Homo sapiens: one gene and its partner. The protein of the gene in region 1 interacts with the protein of each later gene in a pairwise test. Each region holds a gene or a part of one and is shown on either strand. Other genes may lie near its edges. The genes, in order: SEMA6A and SORBS1.

Evidence for each region.
Region 2: the proteins of SEMA6A (region 1) and SORBS1 interact in a two-hybrid assay, tested with the Homo sapiens proteins (one study listed by BioGRID and IntAct).

Annotation. Positions count from the first base shown.
Region 1 is NC_000005.10:116,563,191-116,573,158, reverse strand, and holds part of SEMA6A (semaphorin-6A isoform 2 precursor), read left to right. Parts: exon of another isoform or gene 1-438; intron 439-9,968. UniProt on the Homo sapiens protein: Cell surface receptor for PLXNA2 that plays an important role in cell-cell signaling. Required for normal granule cell migration in the developing cerebellum.
Region 2 is NC_000010.11:95,549,334-95,559,301, forward strand, and holds part of SORBS1 (sorbin and SH3 domain-containing protein 1), read right to left. Parts: intron 1-9,968. UniProt on the Homo sapiens protein: Plays a role in tyrosine phosphorylation of CBL by linking CBL to the insulin receptor. Required for insulin-stimulated glucose transport. Involved in formation of actin stress fibers and focal adhesions.

The DNA of each region.
Region 1 (9,968 bases):
CCTGCCTGATCCTTCTGGGGCGGGAAGTGTCTCTTGTCCCGATTCTCCGCGTTTTGCTCAGCTCCTCGCTGTGGGAGATGGTGCAAAACAGGATCCTGAGGTCTCCTCCCTCCTCGCAAGACCCGAGCGGCACGGGGGGAGCCAGGGAGCGGTCCCGGGCTTGTGGACGTCGGGAAAGGAAACAGAATTCCGCTGTTTTTCCCGCTCCCTCGCCGCCCCTCCGCCCAGCGCCTCCTCCCACTTTACAGCGGCGGGGTCACTAGACCAGGCGCTCCTGGAAAGTTTCCCTGAAAGCCAGGGGCGGCAGGCACGACCGGACTGGGGCTCAGCATGTGCAGTCTGAGGGAAGCCGGACCTGGAGGGAATCATGCGGACAGCTCGGGATGCAGCTAGGAGCTAGATCCCGGCCCTTTGGAGAGTGGAACCTCCTGGCCCGCGGTACTTGCTCGACAAGTCGGGGAAGGGATGAATGGGGAAGCAGGACCCCGGAGGCAGGTGCGGCCACTGTGGACAGAGGCTGTGGGGAAGGTGCGTGTGGACACAGGCCGGGGCTCAGTGGCTTGCAAGTAGGCAGCTTCAGGTGCAGAATCCCGAGCCATCTGCTCCCTGCGCACGATTTCCCAGCGTGGCTATCCAGGGAGGGAGGAAGCAGAGCCAGGTGTGCGTGGAGCGGGAGAGGAATGGGAGACTGGAGGCGCTGTCTTCACAGCCGGGGCAAGCACTTCCAGGGAGTCTCCGGCCTGTATCGCACTGGGGAGCCCTGCAGGCTTTTTCGCGTCGGTCTTTGGGAGAAAGGTGGCTGCTTTGGAACTGCGGTGGCCAGGCACAGCCACAGTGGGATCGCTCCTTTTTTTACGCTCAGCTTTTTTACGCTACTGAATGCGATCTGTGAAAGGTTTAAAACACAGGCGTGCATGGACACACACACGCACACACTCGCCCTTGTACGCACAACTTTCTTTACCTCAGATCTGAAAAGCCGTTTAACCCACTTGCAGTGTTGTGCCAGCAGGTCTCAGAAAAGCTATTTAATGCCCCCCAGCGCTGGTTTTTAAGTCTTGCCAGGATGGGAAGGTCGAGTGCCTTTGCCTTGTCTTTCTTTAGTCCTGAAATTGTTCGTCGTCCTTCCCCTGGTGGACACATCTTGGGCATCAAGTCTGTGGTATGCTACAGTGATGGCGGGGAGGACTGGTGGTTTAATTAATTATTTAATTATGTTTTCTCCCCAAAGTAAAGATGCCTATGTTTAATTCTGACTAAAAATACTCTACACTTTTTTATACCGTACCCAAATGGCTACCAGCGGTCAAGATTGCAAGAATTTTGTATGACTTTTTAATGCTGTGTTTAGTCTACATGGAGCAGTTTTATGATTTACAGTAAGCTTTGATTAAACTACTCCAGGCACCAAAGTTAATTATTAACCTAACCTTAAATACAGTGGCAGAACTATGTCTCCACCTATTAACCTAAACTATCTATTAAAAAATAATTGCACTAGCTATTTGAATTTGGTTTACCCATGCTTGTTTGTATGGTAACTTTTATTTGAATCTTGAGTAACCCTTACTCCCTGTTATTATTTTGGTTTTGGGACGTTCTTGAATGAGGCACTTTGCAAACCAGTTTAAAGCAGAAAAGAACGAACATCAAATTTAAAATCTTACTTTTGGTTATGAGTCATTTTTCAACTTGATGTAAAGAAGCATTCTACTTTATGTTTCTGATGTACAGTGTTTGTGGGTGACAACCTTCCCCATATGTTAGGTTTTGCAGCTATCACCTTTTAGAGATGTGCTACATTTTCAATAACGCATATAATCCACATATGTAAATGTTAAGCAGATACCGAAAATCATTTCTGAGGAGCCATCAGCTGAATATACTTATTGGACATAACAACTAAGCTTAAATAGGTAAAAATTTTATAAGAACCAGTATAGAACACTCAAGTAAATGTCGAATGAATGAAATAAATAGTCACACATGGTTCATGTTTGTCCACTTAAAGTGGACTTCTTTATTTTCCCTACAGTGAAAAAAAAAATATATGCCTTCAAGTGAGTGGTTATGATAAGGCGGCAATAAGTGCACCTTTTTATTTACACACAACACACACCCCTCAAGTTCTTCCAAAATCTAGTAAATGCTTTTTCCAACATTAAACACATATAGCAGTTGTATTTTGAGTAGGCGGGTAACATTGCACTAGTGAAGTCTAATGTGTTGAATCAGAAGTGTAGCAAGAATTAGGAAGACTGTTATCTTCACCAAATAAAAATGAGGCATCCAAATTAAGAACTTGTATTAAATTCAAAATAAGTAGTTATGCTTTAAAAGTAAATGGGTAGTTGCACTCCTATATGAAATGGAAGGAAAAATACTATTTTGAACCAGGAGTTAAGTCAGATAGTTTATTCTGTGTACATTGTGGTTCAGCGCTTTTCAGAACAGGACAAAAGAGTGATGATGGGATGAAAGTTTTTTTAGAACTAGATTGCCAAGAGCTAATATAGTCTCTCCATCTTATTTGTTTGCAGGAAGGAATCACAGAACAAGCTAAGCTAATTGCAAATGCTTTAATTAAGCATCTGCCATTTGTGTAAGGCAATGCCTAGGAAAGCCTATCTCTGCACTGCCCCTCTCCACACCCTTCTTTAGGTTTAGACAATTTTCTGTCCTCCTAGAGTAGAGGAGTGCTCCTTGACATATTTATATAGAAGCTTTGTGTTATGGCAGCCACATTTGTGCATGTTGAGGAAGGTGATGCCTTGAGGCGTTCTGCTGGGCCCTCCCATATCAGGAACCCCCCCCACTCTCTTGGGGTGCCTTGGAGCCAAGTTTTCTCTGAGATATTTCTATTTCAGCGTGAAGGCTTTTCTCATCTGCTTTAAAATGTGCTGCAAGAGCAACTGAGCTATTCTCTGCTGGCGACCACATGGTTGCCTCTTGGGGATATGGTAAGATAGAGAAAGGAGGGAGGCATTTAATCCCTTCGAAATGGGCAAATGAGATGTCATACCACACAAACCTCAAGGGGAGGAGTTCAGGACAACTTCTCACCATGGGACTACTGCATATAGTCTATACACAAGGGTATCTTGCTTTGTGAAACAGATGAGCTCTTGCAAAACTTTATTACAATAATTCCATTTACACCAATAGAGGGTATCATATAAAACCATAATACACAGATGATTCCCAAATAACCTCTTCAGCTTAGACCTCTCTCCTGGACCTCACAAATAACCAATGCTTAGTGGGTAGGTAGCTCCTCCTGAATAGACATCTCAAACTTAGGTTTAAAAAACCTAATTCTGTATCTTTCTCCCCCATATCTGCCTTTCTCATAGTCTTCTCCATCATAGTAAATGGCAACTCCATTCTTTGAGTTGCCGGCCCCCAAATTTAGTTCTCCTTGAAGCTTCTCTGTCACACCTACATCCATTGTGGCTGCAATGCTGTTGGCTCCACCTTTGGAATACCTGCAGGCTTCCTTCAGGTGTTCCTCCTCTGTGGCCCTCAAATTGGCCAAGCCATGGTCCTCTCCTGCTAGGTTTTCATGCCAGCTTCCCCACTAGCATTCCTGCCTCTGCCCATTTCTCAACACAGCAGCCAAAACACAGCAGTGATTTTTTTTTTAAACTAAACCAGATCAGATCACTACTTTGCTCAGATGTTTTCCCATCTTCTTCCAATAAAAGCCAAAGTCCTTCCTATGGCCTTTGCAGCCCCACATGATCTGCACTCAGGTTCCAACCTCTCTGACCTCCACCCCTTGGGCTTGCTTGAATCTGTCAAGCATGGCATATACTTGGGGTCCTTTGCAAGGACTTACTCTTTCATGCCTTGGGATGGTTCTTTCCCCAGATAGCTACATGATTTGCTTCTCATATTCTTCAGGTCTCTGTTCAAATGTCACTTTCTCAGTGAAGCCTTTTGATCCCCTTATTTACTTTACTCTTTCCCACAGCACTCCCCACCTCTTGGCAGTCCTTATTTTTTTCTTAGCATTTTTCACAGTCTGACAAACTATATGTTGTCCTTGTTGATTTTCTGTCTTCCACTAGAACATAATGCCATAAGGATAGACATTTTTAGGCTTTATTCACTCTGGCACCTAAAGCTGTGCCTGGCACATCATGGGCCATCCATAACAAGTGTTTGCTGAATGAATAAACAGTGAATCATTTTTGCAAACAACTAGTCTTTATTTTATCTATTTTGTCTGCCTTTGTTTTTCTATATCATGTTTTTATCAAATGAGATACTTCATGCATGCATGTGTGTGTGTGTACTTCATGCATGAATGTGTGTGTGTGTGTGTGTGTGTGTGTACAATCTTCCAAGCACATAGGTGGTATGGCTCATGCATCATTAGTGGAACATTCACTGTGTTGTTTTTCCAGTGGTAGTGATGGATTGGAGCCTGTTCATTCCCACATTCTCACCCAGTCCCCTCCTGTGTCCAAGAGCACACATCTGTGAGACACCTGGTTGTAGCTGGAGGGAGTCTGAGTTAGGTAAAATCAACTTGCCAAGAAACAGAGCTAAGAAGACAGCCAGCATTTGTGGGGATTGAGCTTTTGACCCTGGCCTCATTTGTTCTGCATTCTAACCACTGGCCATAGAACGTTCATGTTTTTTTGGAGTTTGCTAATAGTAGTTTTAAAATTCAACTTTCTATCAGGAGAATACAGCATACTTTATTAACCCATGTTTCTGCCCTGTACCCGTACAGTATATCTGCTGTTGAGGATCCTGCACTTGGAGACAAGAAGACCTGAGTTCCAGACTCTCACTACCTTGGACAAGTCACTTAACTTCTCTGTGGCTGCATTATTTTAATTGAAAATTATAAATAGTAAACCTATTCTTCCTAACTTATAGGATTACTGGGAAAATAATACGAAATCATGAATGTGAATGTATTTAGTGAAATATTACACGCATTGTGGAAATTTGGGAAGTTTGATGTTAACCCCCTCTTTCCCACTCTGGACCCTGGATATAACAGAGATCCTACTTCATCTTCTAAATTATTTTTGGTAGAATATACACTGTTCATGTAGTTTTAATGTAAATCACATTATGCAACTAAATAATATGTTCAAATTCATTGAAATTGTACAGTTCACCTAGAGCATGGATAGCAACTTTATTAATTAGAACACCTACCATGTCAAGGAAACATTGCTTTCAACATTATCATTAAATCAGGCAAGGTCATAGGAGTACCATTCTGCCAGGAATTAGTTTAAAAGTAAGATAATTGTTTTTGCTCAGTTAAATTCTGAAATAGTTCAAATCAGTGTAACGATTAATATGTCAGGGTGAACCAGGACTAGTAGAAGTTTCCATCTTTGTCATAACAAGGCCGAATTCGTTAGATCTTGTGGCGTGAGGTTAATAAATGTGAAGGGACCGTTGGAGGGAAGGTAGTGGACAACTCTAGAGGCATTGCGGAGGTCATGCTTTTTTGACAGACAATGCACGTGGATTTGTTTTGCCATTTACCAACAGTGTGACTTTATGCCAGTTTCCTTTCTCCTTCAGTTTTCATTTGCAAAGTGCTAGTATGATGATAATGTTATGGTTTTGAGAAGAATAAATGTGCTAACATCTGTAAAATGCATGTCACAATGCCGGGCACACAACAAGCAGTCATTCAACATAAGGTATTATTTTTACTTGAGTAACAGTAGTTACGAAAAATGTCCTAGGAATGGATTTTGAAAAAGCAGATAGTACTTTTATTCTGGGGGGCAGGGGAAATAGTAGAAAAGGAAATGGCTACGAATCTGTAATATAAAGAGATGATGCAAAAGAAAACAACCTTTGGACTAGAAACAAACATTCATACCATAAACAGGCCATAATGTCATGGGTTTTAAGTTGAGAAGCATGTGAATACATCACTTGCAGGGAAACAGGAAACAGGGAAACTTTGGAATTTGAAATATCACACCCAAAACATGGAAGGAAAAAACCACTATATATAAAAAATAATAATAATAACAAGCAGAGCCTTATATCAAATAGGAGCCCAAGGGATAGTTTTTGAAAAATGATAGCTATCACTTATTAACATTTTAATAATAAAATGTACACTCTGCACCTACATTTAGAATCTGAAAGCAACTCATAATGACAATTTTAGGGATGAGTTGAATTCCCAAGGACCACACCTGTCTTAGGAGAGAAACTCGGCTGCTGATTGGAACCCTTGAGGAGGTTGTGGCTAGGACTTCTGCAAGAGGGTCTTCAGGTTGGGCATGCATCTGCCAGGTCACTCTTCCCTGGCCAAGCTTGAAATCAATTTGGGAGCAAAAGCAAACTACTGCCTTCCACACCAAAGGTAGGAAATAATTGGCTGACCCCAGTAGAGATAGCAGTTATTCTGCTGACAGACACACTACTACAAAACCTGAAATTTGATTCAAATGATAGTCATACAAGTTCTTATCAGTGAGAAAAATCTGACTTCTAAAAGGCACAGCAGAAGGGGAAATAAATTGATGTTATCACCACAATTCCCTGCTACCATTATGTTTTCCAGGAATGCCTCCATGGCTTAGAGTTACAGTTATTTTCAACTAGGAAATAAAATGTTCTCAAACTCTGTAAGTGGAAACAGAATGGAAAGAGTGTGAGATAAATCAGTAATTAACATGCTGCAAGGACCGAAGTTTCAGATCCTTCTTAGCAGCCAGTATGGTGACTTTTGCTTAGAAAGCATTGTTAGTAATAGATACTTCCTCATGCAGCCTTTAGACTTGAAGCTTTCTTTTAATATTCCTAGGTGCTTTCTAGGAATTTCCAACTAACCTATAATTGTCATCTGTAGAACATTAAATTCAAAGAATCCATGCCAATTAAAAAAATTTAGCAGAAGAAGCTCTAAAGTTGGTGCTGTTTACGCCTTTCTTAGCCCTTCTGCCCCTCTACGCTTCAAAGACCAGCCTTTGGCCATGATTTGATTAGAAGCATTTATAGAACAGAACAGGATCTGGCATTAAATACAATGAAAACATGCCATTGGAAAATAAACATTGTTAGAGACTACGAAGAAATAAAGATTGTATTAATTATGTTTTAATGTTCTATGAGGGTTTTACAGACAAGCTGTGATAGATCCATTCTTCTTTCCCTGTTCCTATTCCTGATTCGTTTTTTAAAGAAAAGTATTCAGTCTTTTCATTAATATTGCAGCGACTTCAGCACTTCCCCGCCCCTCCCCCAGACTCCTACTGTCCTTGAATGAGGAAACTGAGAGAATACTGATTGAGCTGGTGAATGGAAACGTTCCTTTCCTGAAAATGGAATGCTTTACAAAAAATTGCATTCCACAAAAAAACACTCAAAACAATTCAACAACTGTCCCTCCTCCTTTCTACCCAGAGAGCCACTTGATTTCATTCACATATTTTGGTTTTTCAATGTATTTGTTCTTAGGCCTAAAATACCCAGGTGGAAAACCATTCTATTAAGCCTTTCACTATTTTAAAAACATGAGCATCTGAGTTTCTAAGAACATTCTCATTCCTGCATAGTGAGCGATAAATAGAAACCAAATTGTTTGTAGCATTCTAAACTCAAGTATATTGGCAGAATGGCAGTGGAGTTGATTTTTATAAGAATACTTGTTAATGGTTTTCGAGACGGATTCTGTGCTAATTCTTCTTGTATCATGAATGATGGCCCTAGCTAGACACTGTCGCTGGGATCTTCATCTGTTAATCATGGAGGCTGCTTTCTTATTCGGTTGCCATAGTTTCAGTGCCTCACATAGTGTTGGGGTGTCTTGGGAAAGGTTTGAGATATACTAGGGCTTGCAAGCCTTGCAGTTATTTTGACAGTTGTGCTCTGAAAGACTGAAAACCGCTTCTCGTATAATTCAGTGTTGGATTAAAAGAGGCAACTTCTGAGAGTGTCTCCCTGGACCTTGTTATGTGCACATCCAGCTGGTATTTAATCCAGGATTTGCCTCTTGCTCAGTCTTGCTGGCAAAAAAAATAAATAAATAAAAATACAGTACAGAGGCTGATGTCACTTTCATATTTCAACAAGAAAGCAAAGGGACGCAAACTCTTCATTAAGACTATTCACAAATGTGGAGGTAAATGAGGCCATTCATGACTTTGCTTAAAATTTCTGCTCCATAATTTGGCTTTGGCTTTGCAGATTACTAAATAAATAAAATGACATCATGATTGCTGTGTGCCGTGTGTTATTTTGGCAATGGAAACATGTAGAGCTTTACTTCAGGTTTAACCTTTCCTTTTTTACACTTGACACTCATTGCTAAGGAGCTAGAGACCATTTTACTGTATTTTGCAACAAAAGGCTCATACATTTTGGACTGTAGGTCTACTGCTTTGTCAACTCGTGAATAGTATATGAACATTTTTCAATTATTTAATAATTTCAATATTTTGCTATTTTTTTTTAGGTTTGTGACTTTAGAGTTGATTAGAGAATGTTCTCCAGTGGTGTATATATTGTGTGACTTGGTCAAGAAAGGATTTGGGGAGTAAATTGCTGTAAGAGGGTGATACACATACACACATTCTGGCGATTTATGTGCTTCACGTGTGATGCAGAACACAGCTTGCTTCTGGTTGGCAAATTTGGCCTTGTGCAACGGATAGTGGTACACTTCATGTTTCAGTTTCCATTTCTCAAGTGGACTTTCAAGGACTCCTACCAGTCTAAGCCAAGCAATTTAATTCCTTTGTAGATTAAAACATAAAATAATCTCACACTGGAAGCAAACAGTGTTGAATTCAAGACATGCAAAGCATAAGTGAAAATCTAGGCTGATTTAGAAGAAGAAACTTTGAATTCCTTACAAATGGGACTAATCTAGAAAATCAGTCATTTTTTTCCTTTTTACTAGAAAATGACTAGTTTTTATTTCAGAATGAGCTTCAAGGCAGCGTTTTAAATTTCTCCAGATCCAGCCTGCCAACATTTTTGTGTAAGATCAACAAGCATTTTTAATGCACGTGCCTATTTTGTTGACCCATCCGTTACCCAACCACATTAAAGGATTGATTTTAGAGGCCAATAATGTGAAGTAAATTAAAAGGATAACATGGCCTTAATTGCTACTGGTTTCACCGGGCTTCTAGGCACCGGAATTTCTTGTGGAGAAACACTTTAAGTGTCACAGCAGTTTTTGATCATGTGGTCTGGCTCACCCAGAGGCTTCAATTATCTCCCAGCCCTTCTCCACCTCCCCTCAGATATCTCTGAGAAGCAAAGAAAATGTGCATTTGTAAATTCAGTATTATGGACCCCTGATTATTTGGCAGGGTAAGAAAATAGGTTCTGTTCATTTTACAGTATTCGCATAGGCTAGATGTTTAAACAACAACAAAAGACATGGAATGGAGGAGAACAGTGGGAGTAAGATCAAAGCTTTTTTCATTAAAAAGAATTTTGTTGAATTGAGTTCATTCTCTCAAATGATAACAAGATTGTGATTACTCTTGGGTGTCGGGTTAGACACAACATTGCACACGTAGCTTAAGAAAAGTAAAAAGTACTTTTTGTGTAGATGTCAGTCAAATACAATGTGGACTTTAATTAACCTTAATTAATGATTTCTGATTACAGATTTTCTTTTGTGTGCCTTGGAGGCTGTATTTAGGTAGAGTATTTTCAGCCAGTAGTGACATGAACTTGCTTCCTTTGTCTTGCCATGCAAACCACACTAGATTCTCATTACAAGGAAAAATGTGATTCTGCATCATTTCAGAATGGTCATACAAAGAATGAAATATCACTTGGGGAACAACTGAAATTTGTAAGTGGTGTGGAGTATTTGAATCTTCAGAGGAACCATTCCTAATTTTAAAGGAATTTACCTATCAAAATTGCTGATATTTACTGGCTTCTGGCTGGATTCGAGGCCATTCCTTCCAAAGATTGAATGGGATTTTGAGTGGTGCCCCAGTTCTTTC
Region 2 (9,968 bases), on another chromosome or scaffold:
CAAGAGGGAAGGTGCCATTTCTCTTTGTTCGCTGCTATATTCCCAGAGCCCAGCATGGACGCTGGTCTATAACCGGTGCTCAATAACTATTTGATGAACAAATCAAAAGCAAAGGACTTTTCAGGTGCTCTAATAGTACCTCATCTCCCACACAGGCATTGATTCTTCATGTTCCCTGGAGAGTGGACATTTAGCCTTGGCTTGACACAGAATTCAGGGCTTCCTAATGCAGTCTGGTAGGGAGTTGCTCTTACAATAAAAAATATCTTCCACTGAGCTAAATCAATATCCCTAAAATTTCTAGTTACTAGTCCTGGCACATAAACTCAGAAGTGTGGGAAAACCAAAAGAAGTTATGAAAAAACACTTAAATGTTTTTAAACACCTGAATGCAGGGATACATCTATAATTCATTTTCATGGTTAAGATGAATCTGATCTTAACTGGTAACAAGTCTTTCTCCGCTCCACTGTGCTGTTTGAAATGAATATATGACTACTATCTGTTTGGGAGAAAACAATCCTCTAGTGTCAAGGCTGTGGTCCAGAATTGCTGTCTCCATTGATTTTAATACCAATGCATTTGAGTCCCCCAACTCCATAAGTGGGCCAGGGAACGTGCAGCTAGGCCCTCAACAAGCTAGGCTTGTTCTCCAAGCAGGGTCTGGGGATTCTGGCAGAACAACTCACATTTTCATATTTCCTACATACCTCCTATGTACCAACAACTGTGATAGACACAGGAGATACAGAGGATGGCGACGTGATACTCACAAGGAGCCCTCGGTTTAGAAAAAGGGAGAGTCAAAATGTGCAGAGGACTTACTTTGTACAAGGCACTGAACTAAGCCAGGAGAAAGACATATAAACCAAACACAATCAACTCAGTGTGGCCCATGCCAAAACAAACATACATACAAAACACCACAGTGGCTGCCTTAGAAGAGACACGTAGAGAATCCTAGCACCGTGGCTTGCACACAGCAGGTGCTCAATGCAGAGAACTGAATCAAACCTTGACCAACATCTCATTTTAAGGCTGGGAAAACCAAGGCCCAGATAGGTTAAGGGACTTCTCAAAGTGACTCAGGTAGTTACTGACAGGGCTGAAGACAGCAACACTCTGTAACACTGTCTCCCTCCCAGTGCGTCTTATCCTCCACTGCATGGGGAGAATAGGCAGGATCTGCTGCCTATTATTATGTCTATCTCAGAATAAGCGACGGATTTATTTTTGCAACACTGTATGTTTGGGTGTCTTGAAATCTGATGACTAAATGTACGCATATCATCCTAGGAACGGGCTTTCAATCATTTAACAAACACTTCTTGAGAATATACTCTATATCAGGCACAAATTTAAGTGTGTGAATGAAGAAATGAAACAAACTTTTGGTCAAATCAGAGAGCTGAACACCCATGTTTATCTCTGCTCTCTTCTGGACTCCCACTAAAAGGACAGTAGACGGATGCATTTCTTAATGAAAAAAGAGACCCCAGCAGATGAGATATGTCAACAGCAGTGGAGAGCTGACCACCATGCAGTAGCTGATTTAGGTTTCCGCATTGTCTGCTCTGCTAAGTGCAAGCAGAGCAGGAGCCACTAAACAAGTGCCCAACTCATGGCACAGAACACAAAGACAGTTCAGGAAGTGGAGGCACCAAGGACTCTAAAGGGAAAAGCAGGGTAAAGCTAAAAAGAAGGGTGCCTGCCTGCAAGTTGGTACAAAGAGCAGTCAGACCCAGGGTCCCTCTTGCAGTCTGCTCAGCCTGGTGATTTCCCTGCCTCAGCTAGCAGAAGGTGGAGATCCACTGATCAGGTAACTTACACCAGAGATACAGCCAAGGGAGGGACACAGCTGAGGGAGGTAGAGAGATGGGAGAGAGGGATGGCAGGTGGGGGCAACTTTCAAAAGACCCAGGGATTGAGTGAAAGTCTGCATATCAAACAGACTAATACCTAGCCCCTTTCCCCATGGAGGCTCCCAGAATGCAGGAAGGCCAGGCTGTTTACCACCCCACCCCACCCTACCCCACACCCAGGTAAAATCCTCTCCAAGAAAGCCCTATCCAGGAAAGCCCCAGGAAAAAGATCTACCGGCGCTGATATCTAGGCTGCTCCAGTAGAGAAAAAGGGGGCTCTCTGCTGGGTCACTCTACAATGAAGTTAACGACTCCCTTCCTTGTGGCACTGATGCCCAATCAGCATTTCGGTGTCCATTCTTAAAATATACATAGACAGTCAAGGATCAGCATGCATGGAAGGATAGCTGCAATGGAAGATACAGTAACCAAAACAAATGGAAAAAGGGACTTGGAAGAAACAACATCTTCCAAGGGACAGCAGGGAACAGCAGAAAACCATAAAAAAAACAAAAACAAACAAACAAAACCCTTAATATAAAGGAATTTACTGTACCCATGAAACAAGAATAGAATGTCATCTAAAAAAGAAAAGCAAGTATTCAGAGAACTAGGGAGCTCTTACAAAGTAAAACATGCAAATATGTTCCACGTAAACACATGAAAGCACAGTTAAAAATGGAAAAGAGTTGAAGATAAAGCTGAAGATAGCTCTCTGAAAGACAAAAATATAATAAAATGAAAAAAGGAAATAAAATGTTTTAAAATTATAAACTTGCTCCAGGAAGTCCAACATTCAGCTAATAGGCATGCCAAAGACAAAACACAGAAAATGGAGAAAATGAAATTATTAAAATATATCTAATTAAGAAAATTTCCCCAAACTGAAAGACGTCAATCTTCAGATCAAAAAGGCACACACCGGCTGGACGCAGTGGCTCACACCCGTAATCCCAGCATTTTGGGAGCCCGTGGCGGGTGGATCACCTGAGGTCTGGAATTTGAGACCAGCCTGGCCAACGTGGTGAAACCCCCATCTCTACTAACAATGCAAAAATTAGCTGGGCGTGGTGGCATGCGCCTGTAATCCCAGATACTTGGGAGGCTAAGGCACGAGAATCGCTTGAACCCGGGAGGCGGAGGTTGCAGTGAGCCGAGATTGCACCACTGCACTCCAGCCTGGGCAACAGAGTGAGACTCCATCTCAAAAAAAAAAAAAAAAAAGGCCCACACCAAAGACCCAGGCCAATCATTTTTAAAGCAAGGAGATTTCAAATACAGGAAAAGAGAGAAGATCCCAAAAACTTTCAGTGAGAAATCAGGTTATCCATAAATGATCAAGAATCAGAATGGTATCCGAATTTTGATACCAATATTAGAACCTAGATGACAGTGGAATGATGGCTTCAAAATTCTAAGGGAAATGGCTTTCGACTTCAAATTCTAGATGAATCAAATCACCAATCGAATATGAATGTAGAATATGAACATTTTCAGACCTGTAAGCTTAAAGTGATCAACTTCCACAGACCCTCTCTCAGAAACTTGTGGAAGAATAAATCAACAAAGGAAACAGGATCCCACCCAGGATAAGGTGAGGGAATTCCCAGGATGAGTCATGCCACAGGCCTAGAGGTCAATGGGCAAGAACAAAGGAGACAGAATGGAGGCCTATAGGAGGGAAGTCTCCAAGCGGGCGTAAAAAAAAAAAAACAGTAATAAAATAAAAAGGAACAAGCGCAGGCACGGTGGCTCATGCCTGTAATCCTAGCACTTTGAGAAGTTGAGGAGGGAGGATTGTTTGAGGGCAGGAGTTAGAGACCAGCCTAGGCAATGTAGTGAAACCCCATCTCTACCAAAAAACTTTAAAAATTAGCTGGACATGGTGGTGCCTGTAGTCCTAGCTACTCAGGAGGCTGAGGCAGGAGGATCACTTGAGCCCAGGAGGTCAAGGCTGCAATGAGCTACAATCGCACCTCTGCACTCTAGCCTGGTGGACAGAGCAAGGCCCTATCTCAATAAATAAATAAATAAATAGGAACACATGTTATAAAACAAATGTCTTAAGATGCTGTCAAATACTTTGAGAATTAGCAATAAGTACATAGAAACTAAGTAAATAGAAAATGTAAGATAATTATTAACTCAAAAAATGTACAAGAAAGAAAATATTATAGTATACTATATGGCTCTGTCATGAACACTATTTACACAGCCAAAATAATGTAAGCACCAAATATCAATGTAATCAAAAACTGTGATATATCTATAATGAGAGGATAGGGAGAAAGGGAAGTATTGGGGGGCAGAGGAGAGGATCTAATCCATAGTAAGACATCAAGACATAACATCTAAAAGTAACCTCTAAGCTGGGCATGGTGACTCACACCTGTAATCCCAGAACTTTAGGAGGCCCAGGTAGGAGGAGTGCTTCAGGCCAGGAGTTAAAGTCCACCCTGGCCTCAAGCAGGGTCTCAACATAGCAAGACCCTGTCTCTACAAAAAGAAAAATAAGGAAAAATAAAAATAACATCTAAAATGGACAATCAGAAAACAGCATTGTAAGCAGGTAACAATAAATATGATAGTAATATCAGGAGAAACAGCTCAGTGCATTAGAAGTAACTGTTGTAAACAGAGTAACAGCAGCCCCTCAAGGATGTCTATATCCTAACTGCCATGCCTGGCTAATTCTTTGTATTTTTTGCAGAGATAAGGTTTTACTATGTTGGCCAGGCTGATCTTGAACTCCTGGCCTTAAGTGATCCGCCGGCCTCAGCCTCCCAAACTGCTACGATTACAGGAATGAGCCACTGCGCCCAGGCAGCCTTTATATTTTTCTAGTAGTATTGACTTTTTTTTTTTTTTTTTTTTGAGAGGGAGTCTGGCTCTGTTGCCCAGGCTGGAGTGCAGTGGCACAATCTCAGCTCGCTGCAACTTCCGCCTCCCTGGTTCAAGTGATTCTCCTGCCTCAGCCTCCAGATTAACTGGGATTACAGGCGCCCGCCACCGTGACTGGCTAATTTTTGTATTTTTTTAGTAGAGATGGGATTTTGCCATGTTGGCCAGGCTGGTCTCAAACTCCTGACCTCAGGTGATCCGCCCACCTCAGCCTCCCAAAGTGCTGGGATTACAGGCGTGAGCCACCACACCCAGCCTATTTGTCTTTCAAAACTCTGTGCGGGGTGGGGGTGCACAGTGGCTCAGGCCTGTAATCCCAGCACTTAGGGAGGCCAAGACAGGCAGATCACTTGAGGTCAGGAGTTCGAGACCAGCCTGGCCAACACTGTGAAACCCTGTCTCTACTAATAATAAAAAAATTAGCTGGGGGGGTGGTGGTCTCCTGTAGTCCCAGATACTAGGGAGGCTGAGGCAGGAGAATCGCTTGAACCCGGGAGGTAGAGGTTGCAGTGAGCTGAGATCATGCCACTGCACTCCAGCCTAAGCAACAGAGGGAGACTCTGTCTCAAAACAAACAAAAAAGAAACTCTCTGTGTACACACACACACACACACACACACACGCGAAAGTTTTATACAAATTAAAATTTAATTTAAAAAGAGAAGAAACACAGACTCACTCTATTCCCAGAACTCACAATATGGGGGAGGAAACAGACAAGGGAACCAGCAATATCAACAGAAGTAGAAAGCTGAACACAAGAAGAAAGGCATCTCTTTTTTTGTTTGTTTTTTTTTTTTTTGAGATGGAGTTTCGCTCTTGTTACCCAGGCTGGAGTGCAATGGCGTGATCTCGGCTCACTGCAACCTCTACCTTCCGGGTTCAAGTGACTCTCCTGCCTAAGCCTCCTGAGTAGCTGGGACTACAGGCATGCGCCACCACGCCCGGCTAATTTTTTGTACTTTTAGTAGAGAGGAGGTTTCACCATGTTGGCCAGGCTGGTCGCGAACTCCTGACCTCAGGTGATCCACCTGCCTCGGCCTCCCAAAGTGCTGGGATTACAGCTACCGCGCCCAGCTGAAAGGCATCTCTTTAAGATGTGAGGGGAGTCTGAGGGGAGAAGGCATCAGCCAGGAAACGCAGAAAAAGGCCTTCTGGTGAGGGAACCAGTCCTGGTGGGGGGTGCAGGGGGGCCTGGCCTTTGGGGACGTGGAGTAGGGAATGACCGGGCATCTGGTGGTTTGGCAGAGCCAGCAGGAAAGCATGGAGGGGTGGTTCTCAGCACCAGCAGGTTTGATGCCTACCCTATCCCCGGCTTCTCCAGTTGGGGTATGAGACTGATATGCATATTTACAGAGGGCTGGTACAAATGAGGGCCCACAATAAACACATTTTCGTAGAACGTCAATTGTATTCAACAGTAAAGCAACTTAAATACTTTTATACTAAAACCAGTACACATATATTACAGAGAATACAAACCTAATGTGACAAGGTGACTTCTTGTTTGCAAGGCCCACTTTAGATACTAAAGTACTTGCTGACCACTGAGCATCAAGAGTCAATCCTCTCTGTAACTAATTAGAGTCAGAAGAAAATCATAAAGCGGTACAGCATCCATCCATCAAAGAATCCGGGAACTTTACACCAGCAACTGTCGGTGGGTGCCCACCCTCCCAAGGTGGGCAGAAGACATACCTTGGGTCCCACTCAACACTAATCAGAAAGTTAACAAGCATCTCATTCTTTTCCAAAAGGGTCTGGGTCCTGCTACAGCCAGTTAGGTTAGCTCAGCCTGAGGAAACAGAGAAAACAACGATGCTAATTCTTCCTAGATATACTCTCTAGGCCATAGCCCGCCAGCCCCTATTCTAAGCAGTACCGCAGTCACTGAGAAGAGCCCCACCTCCACTATCAGCACCCCTAACCCCTTACAGTACAGGCCTCTGTTACAGAATGCATTAAAGACACTTTTTCCATGGAAGGAAGTCTAGAAACAGGGTACATCCCTTGAGAGAGGGTGTCCCTTGTGGTCCACAATACAAGGGTGGAAACTTTTTTCTATTGTTGTGAAAACAATAACCGCATGACAGAGACCTGGGAACTTTTTTTTCTATAAAAAGCCACTGCTGACCACAGAAGAAGTGGGGGGATAAATCAATGGAAGGCCACACAGAAGTAAAAAGCAATTTAGTTGGATTTGGTTCATTTGCCTCTTTTTTGTTTTGTGTGTAAAACACATACACATTCAAAAAAGACTGAATTCAACTGATTTTATTTATTTATTTATTTGGATGGAGTCTCACTCTGTCCCCCAGGCTGGAGTGCAGTGGTACAATCTCGGCTCACTGCAACCTCCACCTCCCAGGCTCAAGCAATTCTTTCTGCCTCAGCCTCCTGAGTAGCTGGGATTACAGGCACCCATCACCACACCCAGCTAATTTTTGTCTTTTTTTTTTTTTTTTTTTTTTGAGACGGAGTCTTGCTATGTCGCCCAGGCTGGGGTGCAGTGGCGCGATCTTGGCTCACTGCAAGCTCCGCCTCCCAGGTTCATGCCATTCTCCTGCCTCAGCTTCCCGAGTAGCTGGGACTACAGGTGCCTGCCACCACACCCGGCTAAATTTTTGTATTTTTAGTAGAGACGGGGTTTCACCATGTTGACCAGGCTGGTCTTGAACTCCTGACGTCAGGTGATCCACCTGCTTCAGCCTCCCAAAGTGCTCGGATAACAGGCATGAGCTACCTTGCCTGGCCCTCGACTGATTTGAAATGAAGAACAGAGAACATGAAATTTTAATGGCAATAGATTAAAAGAAACTACAAAGATATATTGTTGATAATAAAGAAAGAATGAGGGAGGAGGGCAAGGAGAAAGAGGTAAGAAAAAGAAATGGATAGTGGAGGGAGATGTAGCAAAAGAAGAATGGGAGACAGCAAGATTCAGGGACGGGTCCACATGCCTAACCGCACACAAAAAGGGGGAGCCACCAAAGGACCCACAGAGACACTTTCTAGGGCTTGAAGAGTTAGCCAAAGTCAGTTACATTGTTCATGGCCAGCTGTTGGCTGTAGCTCCAGACCTTGAACTATTATCACCTTTTATCCTTGCCTTTGAATGGTTAGTGCTCTGGTCAACCACTGTTCACAGCTCTTTAATTGCTCATTGAAACATTCTGAGGCTTAGCTTAGGTCACAAGCCAGAAGCTCCCCCAAATGAGCTACAATTCAGTAAATCATTCATCTCCAAGTATCTCCTCTGAAAAGGGAGTATTCGAAACACTATCTCATAAAACATTCAAAGCACCGATGAAAATCCAAGGAGAAAATGCTGCTTGCACTGAAACGAAATCCATGGAAAAGTGTTCTGAGTTTTGCATTTACAAAAAAACCGGGACTTCAGCAGAACTGAGTCCCACCTCAGCATCAGCCAGCATCACCACCCGCACACCTGACTTCCCACATGTCCACATTCTGCATGCTCCCGTGGATCTAAAGGCCTCAGTTGGTCCTGAAACTAAGCAGCCTCCATGACACTTTGCAATCTGAGGGTCAACAGGAGCAATCCCAAGGAGATTCCAAGACAGTCTCAGGCTGAGGTTGAACTCTCAGTCCACCCCCCCACCCCCCATCCTAGGCTACCAAACCTCCCCTCACTTCACCCCAAGGGCTGCAGAAGAGCTCAGCTGTTTCAGAGACAATAGAGCCTCCCCCTTTCAAGCTCCATCCTTTTCTCCTCCAAGCTTGGTTTCTGTGTTTTTCCCTTCCCCACATAATCTGTCCCCAGCCTCCTACTTTCTCGTCTGTTTCTCCAATCTCTCTCTTCTTGTGCTCCTATTTCCTCCTCATGTTTCGCTATTCCATCTTAGAATCATTTCTCTCAGAGGAAGAGGGGGCTTAACAGATACATATAGGCCGGGCACCGTGGCTCAAGCCTATAACCCCAGCATGCTGGAAGGCCAATGCAGGCGGATCGCTTGAGTCCAGGAGTTTGAGACCAGCCTGGGCAACACCGCAAAACTCTGTCTCTACAAAAAGTACAAAAATTAGCTGGGTGTGGTAGTGCGTGCCTGTGGTCCCAGCTACTCGGGAGGCTGAGGTAGGAGGACTGCCTGGGCCCAGGAGGTCGAGGCTGCAGTGAGCCATGATTGTGCCACTGCACTCCAGCCTGGGTGACAGGTGAGACCCTGTCTCAAAACAACCACCACCACCAAAAAACAAAAAAACCCAGATACATCTGGAAACAAGATCTACAATCTATCCCCCCGAGTTCCCACCCCAGCTCCACATCTTGCTAGCTGTGCAACCTTGGAAAAATGGCCAAACCTCCCAACCCCTCAAATTCCTCAGTTTGGCGGGGAAGGGGGAGGAACATGGCAATCACAGAGGTCTTTTATAACTCTCATCTTCTAGATAGGTAAACGTTCACCTGTGTAACCATGAATAAACCAGCAAGTTAAACATCCACAGGGAAAGAGAACAAATTACAGAAACTCCCTTTCCTCAGCAATCTATCATCCCACCCTCATCTCCCACAACCACTCACTCTGGGGTCTGTGCCTCTCACTCTGGACCGTTCTAGCTCTGAATTGTTTACATACTTACAGTAAAACCTCACAAATCACACTAATCAAGGAAAAGGTAGATGTGAATCCAACAGAAGCCTGCATCCTAGAATGCTTCTTCTATGCCATTGTGCAATACTTTGAATTTATTATCAATTTAGCAAACAGGAAAGAACCTGAAAATGCCATCACAAACTGTGACTCTAAGAACAGTGGAGTTGTCAGGAACCCTGGAAGACCTTCTGCCCTATCATCCTCCACTTCACCAGCAAGGACACAGGCCCAGAGAGCAGAAGCCACTAGCCCAAAGCCCAAAGATTGGTGGCCAGGACCAAAGCTAGCTGTCCTGCCTCTGGTCCAGAGCTTCTCCACCAAAGCTTTTTGAGACCATCCATGCCTTTCTCCTAGAGACAGGTCAAATCCTAAATTACCATAGAGTGCCCTCTACAGCAAATCTATCTCCACATCCAGGGAAGGGTCTGGAGATAAGTTAGGATGACCTGATCATTATCAATGCTGCACAATAAAAACTTTCTTTCCTGGCCCTGCCCTTTCATTGTTTACAAAGAAAACCCTAGACTCTGCTATCTGTATTGAACTCTTATTTTAGAGAAGGGGAAAGAGAGGAACAGCTGAACAGTGC